Homo sapiens: one gene and its partner. The protein of the gene in region 1 purifies or fractionates together with the protein of each later gene. This does not show direct contact. Each region holds a gene or a part of one and is shown on either strand. Other genes may lie near its edges.

The links.
Region 2: the proteins of TSEN34 (region 1) and TSEN2 purify together in Homo sapiens (affinity purification with mass spectrometry; 4 studies listed by BioGRID and IntAct, with this or other methods). This does not show direct contact.

The regions. Positions count from the first base shown.
Region 1 is NC_000019.10:54,189,582-54,193,328, forward strand, and holds the start of TSEN34 (tRNA-splicing endonuclease subunit Sen34), read left to right. Parts: upstream 1-1,726; 5' UTR 1,727-1,783; coding exon 1,784-2,026; intron 2,027-2,139; coding exon 2,140-2,383; intron 2,384-2,534; coding exon 2,535-2,792; intron 2,793-3,593; coding exon 3,594-3,747. UniProt on the Homo sapiens protein: Constitutes one of the two catalytic subunit of the tRNA-splicing endonuclease complex, a complex responsible for identification and cleavage of the splice sites in pre-tRNA. It cleaves pre-tRNA at the 5'- and 3'-splice sites to release the intron.
Region 2 is NC_000003.12:12,529,365-12,533,111, forward strand, and holds part of TSEN2 (tRNA-splicing endonuclease subunit Sen2), read left to right. Parts: intron 1-397; coding exon 398-509; intron 510-1,490; coding exon of another isoform or gene 1,491-1,514; exon of another isoform or gene 1,515-1,798; intron 1,799-2,205; coding exon 2,206-2,295; intron 2,296-3,297; coding exon 3,298-3,357; 3' UTR 3,358-3,747.

The DNA.
Region 1 (3,747 bases):
GGATCCGAGCTCCGAGTACGTGAAGGGGCGGGCCTTCGGGCTCGGAACAAGGAGGAGCCAAAAGCTTTGGACCCGAAGGGGAACAGACGGGCTCTGGAAAGGAGGCGGGGTCTGGAGCTCGGCGTGAGGAATGAGGCGGGGTCTCCCTTCGGGTTCCTTCGGGCACAATCGGGAGCTTGAGTTCTCCGGAAGCGGGGCCACAAACTTCGGCTCACTTCGGCAATAGTCGAGAACGGAGAGCTGAGGCCACTGTGGGCGGAGCCACATGTTTCGGCTTTCTTCGGAGGTAGTCGAGTCCTTAGGGTCACTGTTCCGATGTGGGCGGGGCCACAGACTCGGCCGGATGTGGGTGGGGCCACAAGCTTCGGTTTACTTCGTAGATAGTTGGGTACAAGTGACGCTAGGATGATAGGCGGAGTCAACAGGTTCGCCAGACACCCATGAGTATTTACAAGGGGGCGGGGCGAAAGCGACTTGCCCTCAAAGGGGCGGAACCCCGAGGGCCGGCGTGCGCCTACGGGACCGGGCCAGGATGACGATCCTCAAGTTCCCAAGTAGAGGAGAGGAAGCGGCAGAGGGAGGTGCGCTCAGTGGGGCGGAGCCAAGGTGGCCCCCGCGGGAGGAGGGCGGGGCTTCGGTCCTGCGAGGGGCGGGACCTGACTTCCCGCGGCGCTGATGGGGCGGGATGACGAAGTTGACGAGGGTGTCGGCATGAGGGGGTGGAGCAAGGAGCGCGTGGCGCGGTGCGCAGTGGGTGGCTCCACCTCGACTGCGAATTACTGTTTATGAGGTGACTCGCTGGTTCTATCGGTGGACAGTGGGACATTCTGAAGGGAGGCAAGGAGGCGGACTGAGCGCTCCCAATTGGGGTGAGCCCGCCCGAGCGGAGAGTGGACGGCGGGTGTCCAGGGGGCGGGGCTTTCGGCTGTGGGGTTCGGTCGTAGGGCGGGAACTCCCCAACTGGGGTGCGCTGGCGCTCGGAGGGGGCGGGGCCACAGGCCGCGAGGCTGCCGGGAGCCGATGACGCCCGAACGCCGAACCTATTGCGTCCGGGAGGAGGCGGGGCTACGGATTCGGCCGAGCCGAGAACACCCGAACGTCAAATTGCTGGCGTTCGAGAAGGGGGCGGGGCTGCGGATTCGGTGGAGCCGAGGACGCCCGAACGCCGAACTTCCTGTGCTCGGGAGGGGGCAGGGTTTTGTACTGTGGGAGTCTGAGAGCGAGGAGGTCCGAAAGCCGAATCACAGTCGTTCGGAAAGAGGAGGAGCGAAGGCTCGAGCGTCCGGAAGAGGGTGTGGCCTCGGCGGTGCCTTAGCCTCCAGAGCTTCTGACCGCTGACGGGAACACCCGAAGGGGGACGCCCACTTTGCAAGAGGGTGGTGCCAAAATGGACCTTTGTAAGGGGGCGTGTCGCCGCGCTTGCGGAGGTTTGTTTTTCACGCTCCAAGGCGCAATGGTAGGTACGGCAGTGCGGGCACAGAGCGGGTGCCGACCGCAGGGTCACAAGGGTAGAGCGGGACCCTGGGGGCTTGGCGAGGGGAGAGGGTCGGGGGCTTGTCTCCGGCGTCTCGTCTCCGGCGGCCGCGAGGCCTGGTGGGATCGCCCGGGGGCGGGGCCTGGCGCTCGGGCCCAGCAGGTGGTGAACGGCGGCTGAGCGAGGCCCCGCCCCCTGAGGCCTAGGGGCGGGGCTTCGCCGAGACCCCGGAGGCTTTGGGTGCGCTGCAGCGGTCCGCGGCGCGCAGCTGTTTCGGTAACTGCTTTGCCTCCCGGCTCCCGCAGGAGGATGCTGGTGGTGGAGGTGGCGAACGGCCGCTCCCTGGTGTGGGGAGCCGAGGCGGTGCAGGCCCTCCGGGAGCGCCTGGGTGTGGGGGGCCGCACGGTAGGCGCCCTGCCCCGCGGGCCCCGCCAGAACTCGCGCCTGGGCCTCCCGCTGCTGCTGATGCCCGAAGAGGCGCGGCTCTTGGCCGAGATCGGCGCCGTGACTCTGGTCAGCGCCCCGCGTCCAGACTCTCGGCACCACAGCCTGGTAAGGGGGCGGGGCTCGAACTCGGGTTCGGTGGGAGCGGGACCTGGGAGTCAAGTTTCCTGGCTTCTGAAGGGACCATAAGCTTGGAGGTTCCAGCGAAGTGTGCTTCTCAGGCCCTGACATCCTTCAAGCGCCAGCAAGAGGAGAGCTTCCAGGAGCAGAGCGCCTTGGCAGCTGAGGCCCGGGAGACCCGTCGTCAGGAGCTCCTGGAGAAGATTACGGAGGGCCAGGCTGCTAAGAAGCAGAAACTAGAACAGGCTTCAGGGGCCAGCTCAAGCCAGGAGGCCGGCTCGAGCCAGGCTGCCAAAGAGGATGAGACCAGTGATGGCCAGGCTTCGGGAGAGCAGGAGGAAGCTGGTGAGCATGGGAGGTGGAGTCCAGGGACCACGGGAAGGAGAGGAGAGATCTTTTAGGAATTTTAGCTGGGAATCCAGTGCCTGGGTCTCCCTGAGGGTGAGAAGACTTTACCCCTTGAATTTACCAAACTCTTCTCTGTACTCCCCACCAGGCCCCTCGTCTTCCCAAGCAGGACCCTCAAATGGGGTAGCCCCCTTGCCCAGATCTGCTCTCCTTGTCCAGCTGGCCACTGCCAGGCCTCGACCGGTCAAGGCCAGGCCCCTGGACTGGCGTGTCCAGTCTAAAGACTGGCCCCACGCCGGCCGCCCTGCCCACGAGCTGCGCTACAGTATCTACAGAGACCTGTGGGAGCGAGGCTTCTTCCTCAGTGCGGCTGGCAAGTTCGGAGGTGACTTCCTGGTCTATCCTGGTGAGTATGGGTTGGGGCCTCTGGTTGCTGTGCCTTTCCATACGATCCCAATGTATTCTGCGTTTTTCTTTTTTTTTTTTTTTGTCTTAATAGAGGTGGGGTCTCTTGTTGCTTAGGCTGGTCCCTATTCCTGGGCTCAAGCAATCCTTCCACCTCGGCCCCCCAAAGTGCTGGAATTATAGGCCCAGCTGCATTTTTCTTTTTTGTCTCACTTTCTCTTAGCCTCTGAAATTCATAGACAGACAGGAAACATTTGGGAGCTCCCGAACTCATTGGGCAAGCAGTTTAACGACTTTTATTAAATGATTACTGTGATCCAGAAGATTCACTTAGAAGTAGTTAGACATCAGGCTGGGCGCAATGGCTCACGCCTGTAATCCCAACACTTTGGGAGGCCAAGACAGGTGGATCACCTGAGGTCAGGAGTTTGATACCAGTCTGGCCAACATGGTGAAACCCCATCTCTACTAAAAATACTAAAACTAACTGGGCGTGGTGGTGGGTGCCTGTATTTCCAGCTACTCGGGAGGCTGAAGCAGGAGAATCATGTGAACCCAGGGGGCAGAGGTTGTAGTGAGCCAAGATCGTGCCATTGCACTCCAGCCTGGGGGACAAGAGCGAGACTTTGTCTCAAAAAAAAAAAAAAAGCCTAGAAGTGGAATAGTTGTGTCCAAGAGCATCTGTTTTAGAGTATCTATAGTGATGGCTGAAATGATCTCAGATCTCCTCCCAGTGGTCGTTCCCGTGGCGTCCAGCCGTCTGCCATTGGTCACTGCTTCAGTGCCTCTCTCCTTCCCCCAGGTGACCCCCTCCGCTTCCACGCCCATTATATCGCTCAGTGCTGGGCCCCTGAGGACACCATCCCACTCCAAGACCTGGTTGCTGCTGGGCGCCTTGGAACCAGCGTCAGAAAGACCCTGCTCCTCTGTTCTCCGCAGCCTGATGGTAAGGTGGT
Region 2 (3,747 bases), on another chromosome or scaffold:
GCTGAGGCAGAGAATTGCTTGAACCCAGGAGGCGGAGGTTGCGGTGAGCCAAGATCGCACCACTGCACTCCAGCGTGGGTGATAGAGCGAGACTCCGTCTCAAAAAAAAAAAAAAAAAAAATTAGTTAGTATTAGTGCCTAAACAGTTGTGTGAATTTACAGCTTTCACATTGGGAAAAGTATTTGTTTTTTCCTGTAAGTTTTGGAATCAGCCTGAAAGTTTGTAACTTAAAGTATGAATTTTTCATTAATATTTTCTCAATAGCAATTTAGGGGAATTTAGAATCAGATGATGCAAATTTCATTTTCTGTATATTTGTTCTTGGTAGGACAAATATTCTTTTTAAACAGATTTATTTCATGATTACTTTTAACATGCTTTTTCTGTATTTTCCAGTTATTCTGTCATTATCGAGCTAGTTGATGACCATTTTGAAGGCTCTCTCCGCAGGCCTCTCAGTTGGAAGTCCCTGGCTGCCTTGAGCAGAGTTTCCGTTAATGTCTCTAAGGTAACACAACATCAGCTTTGCCATTGGAGTGTCACTTAAATGGTTCAGTTTTTTTTTTTTTCTTAAATGTAGTAGAATCAAAAAAGTTAGTTGTAGAAACTTCATAACATTCCTGCCAGTGACATGCTGGAAGATTTGGGGTCATTCGTACCCTTCCCTTATTGCGCTAGAAGTTGTCCTCCCCTCATGTTACATTTTATTGTCCCCTCCCTCCCAACTGCTGCTGAGCTCCAATGACGGAGCTTTGGAGTGTCCCATGGTGATCTGATCTGGGTAGGCATTGCTTCTCTTCCCAGGGGTATCGTTGCTATGTGACTTGTTTTATACTGCAATTTAACATTCACTCATACACATATTCACAAAGGAGTCAAAACATTGAAAGTTTGCAGATCTCTTAGAGAGGAAGGGACTTGATATTTGTTGCTAAGCACTTTCCCACCCTGTTGTTATCCTCATCCTGAGGATGAGAAACCAAGGTTGGAGCCGTTGAGTGGCTAATCCAAGATCACACAGCTCATGTGCATACTCGGGATCCAAACCCACAGCTCTCTGGCTCCCTGGCTTTTGTTTCACTATATCCTTCGTGTTGCCATCAGAGATAGGAGGGACTCAGCTTACACAAGGACTATCAAGAAAGAAAGCTGTGTGTGTTCTCATTACTCAGTGATTTGCTGGCTGAAAACAAATTGTAGATACCCTCTAATTTCATCCTCATGCTGCTGGAGGTGAGGTGGGGCTGAGGCCAGAGGGTCTTGCAGGGCTAGAGATGACTGCCCTTTAGAGCAGGTTAGGTTGCCTAGGCTTTAGCTTGGTCCTATAGAAAATTAGGGAGCCTATACTGTTTCTAGAATTTTTATGCCCATTTTAGGGGACTTGTAGCATATACTTAATATGTCCTCACTTAACATTGTTGATATGTTCTTGGAAACTGCAACTTTAATGTCGTATAACAAAACCGTTTTTTCTTCTCATCATTTCAAGAAAACAATGTTGAAGTTTATTTGAAGACCTGCTGTACATCTGTATTAGTCCATTCTCATGCTGCTATAAAGAAATACTTGAGACTGGGTAATTTATAATGAAAAGAGGTTTAATTGACTCACAGTTCCATGTGGCTGGGGAGGCCTCAGGAAACTTACAATCATAGTGGAAGGCACCTCTTCAGAGGGTGGCAGGAGCAAGAATGAGAGGATGAGTGAAGGAGGAAGCCCCTTATAAAACCATCACATCTCATGAGAACTCACTGTCACAAGAACAGCATGGGGACCGTCCCCCATAATCTAATCACCTCCCACGAGGTCCCTCCATGACACGTGGGGATTGTGGGAACTACAAGATGAGATTTGGGTGGGGGCACAGCCAAACCGTATCAACATCATTTCACTTAAAGTCCGTGTCCAAGAACCTATCAAGGACATTTGAGGACTTACTATATTTAGTATTCTTAATGCTGTGTTTATAATCAATGTATCTGCTTATATCTGTTGCCATGTTCAGTGATTACTAAACGGCAGGTACTTAGTCAGAACGTAAATCCCAGTTATGGTTTCCCCAGGAGGAAACTGATGTGCTCTGTGAGTTTCCACTTGGAGTGCACAGTGAGAGGGACTGGAGACCACCTGCATTTCCTGCTGATGCACCCAAATTTGTACTATTATTTTGTAGGATACAGAAGTGGTTTTTCATTTCTCAATAGGAACTTATGCTGTGCTATTTGATTAAACCCTCTACTATGACTGACAAGGAAATGGAGTCACCAGAATGTATGAAAAGGATTAAAGTTCAGGTGGGTAAACTCAGAGAAATTCATGTCATCCCAAAGATTCTGTGAATCATAGTGTATCTGGAACATGTGGTCCCAAGAAAATACATGAATACAGTTTTGCCTTGGTAACAGAGCCTTCTCAGGCAGGCTCTTAAGTCTCTCACCTTTTCCCCATTGAACCCATTGGACACGAAATCTATGCTGACTTCCTCTATTCCTTAATTCCCCACTTTATTACCTGTGATGTCCCCATCACTCAGCTGAAACTGCTCTCTTACAGGTGGCCTGTGACCCCCTGGCCAGGCCAGGACTTCTCACAGGTCTCATTCCCAGAGACCAGAGGTGTCCCTGTTGACTTGTTCCTGCTTCTGGGCTTCTGTATTGAACCAAGGCGCCTCCTGTCATCTTGGCTTGTTTCTCTCTGGTCTGGCCGAGTTGTCTAGTGTGTGTCCGTGTTTCTGCATTCCCTCCCTCTGTGTGTAGAGCCTTAACGTTGCCATTGGCTCCTCCCAACATCCAGTATGTCTTTGTTGTCGTCCTGTCTTCTTTTCACACCACCCTGCCCCTGCAGACCTGCTGGTCGGTCTCCAGGGCCCCAGCACGTCTTCCCTTCAGTTGGTCCCACTTATCTCCACTAGGCTAGTTTCTCATAAAATGCTCATCAACCTCATTTCTCCCTTCTCAGTAGCTGGCCCCGTTACAGCAATGCCATCACAGACCTAGCTCTAATGTAAAATGCTAGCTTTCATCCCGCCCACCTGTTTCTGAAATGTGCTAGTAGAATACCACAGCAGAGGCAAGCTTAGCTGTTAAAATCTTTGCCTGGTGAAAGTAGATACTGTATGCTTGTAAGGTTTATATTGTTACATTCATTTTCTCCAGATGTTTCTGTTCTAAAGGTGGGAACAGTATCATCATTATATAGACCGCCCTTTGTGAAATGTAGCTGTGGTGTCAGCTGTGGTGTCAGAATGGTCTTACATTTCTGTTTTAAGAAATGGTCTTTTTTTTTATTGGTTGTAGGAGGTGATTCTGAGTCGATGGGTTTCTTCACGAGAGAGGAGTGACCAAGACGATCTTTAACAATTCAACCTCAAATTTCTAATTTCACCAACAACTATTTATTGAGGGCTAGGTAAAAAGTTCTTTTTGTTGTAATCGTCCATTAATTCATAAGTTTTAAAGGGCATGGTGCTCCCAGCACCAGAAAACTATCAGTGTTTTTAAAGATAAATTACACAAGGGAGGAGAAAGATCCCTGTGCTAGGACTGCAGATTCTATACTTGCGTTGGCCTCTAACTCTCCAATCCAGAGCCTCCTGCCTCTGGCGTCAGTCTTTTCCCTCATCCACTCACTGGGGAGATTGGACTAGAGGAGTCCTGAGAGGACACTTCCAACAAGAGACATTTATTCTCTGATTTTACCTGAAAATGGTAGTAGTTTACATTTATACAGTACAGTTTATGAAGCAC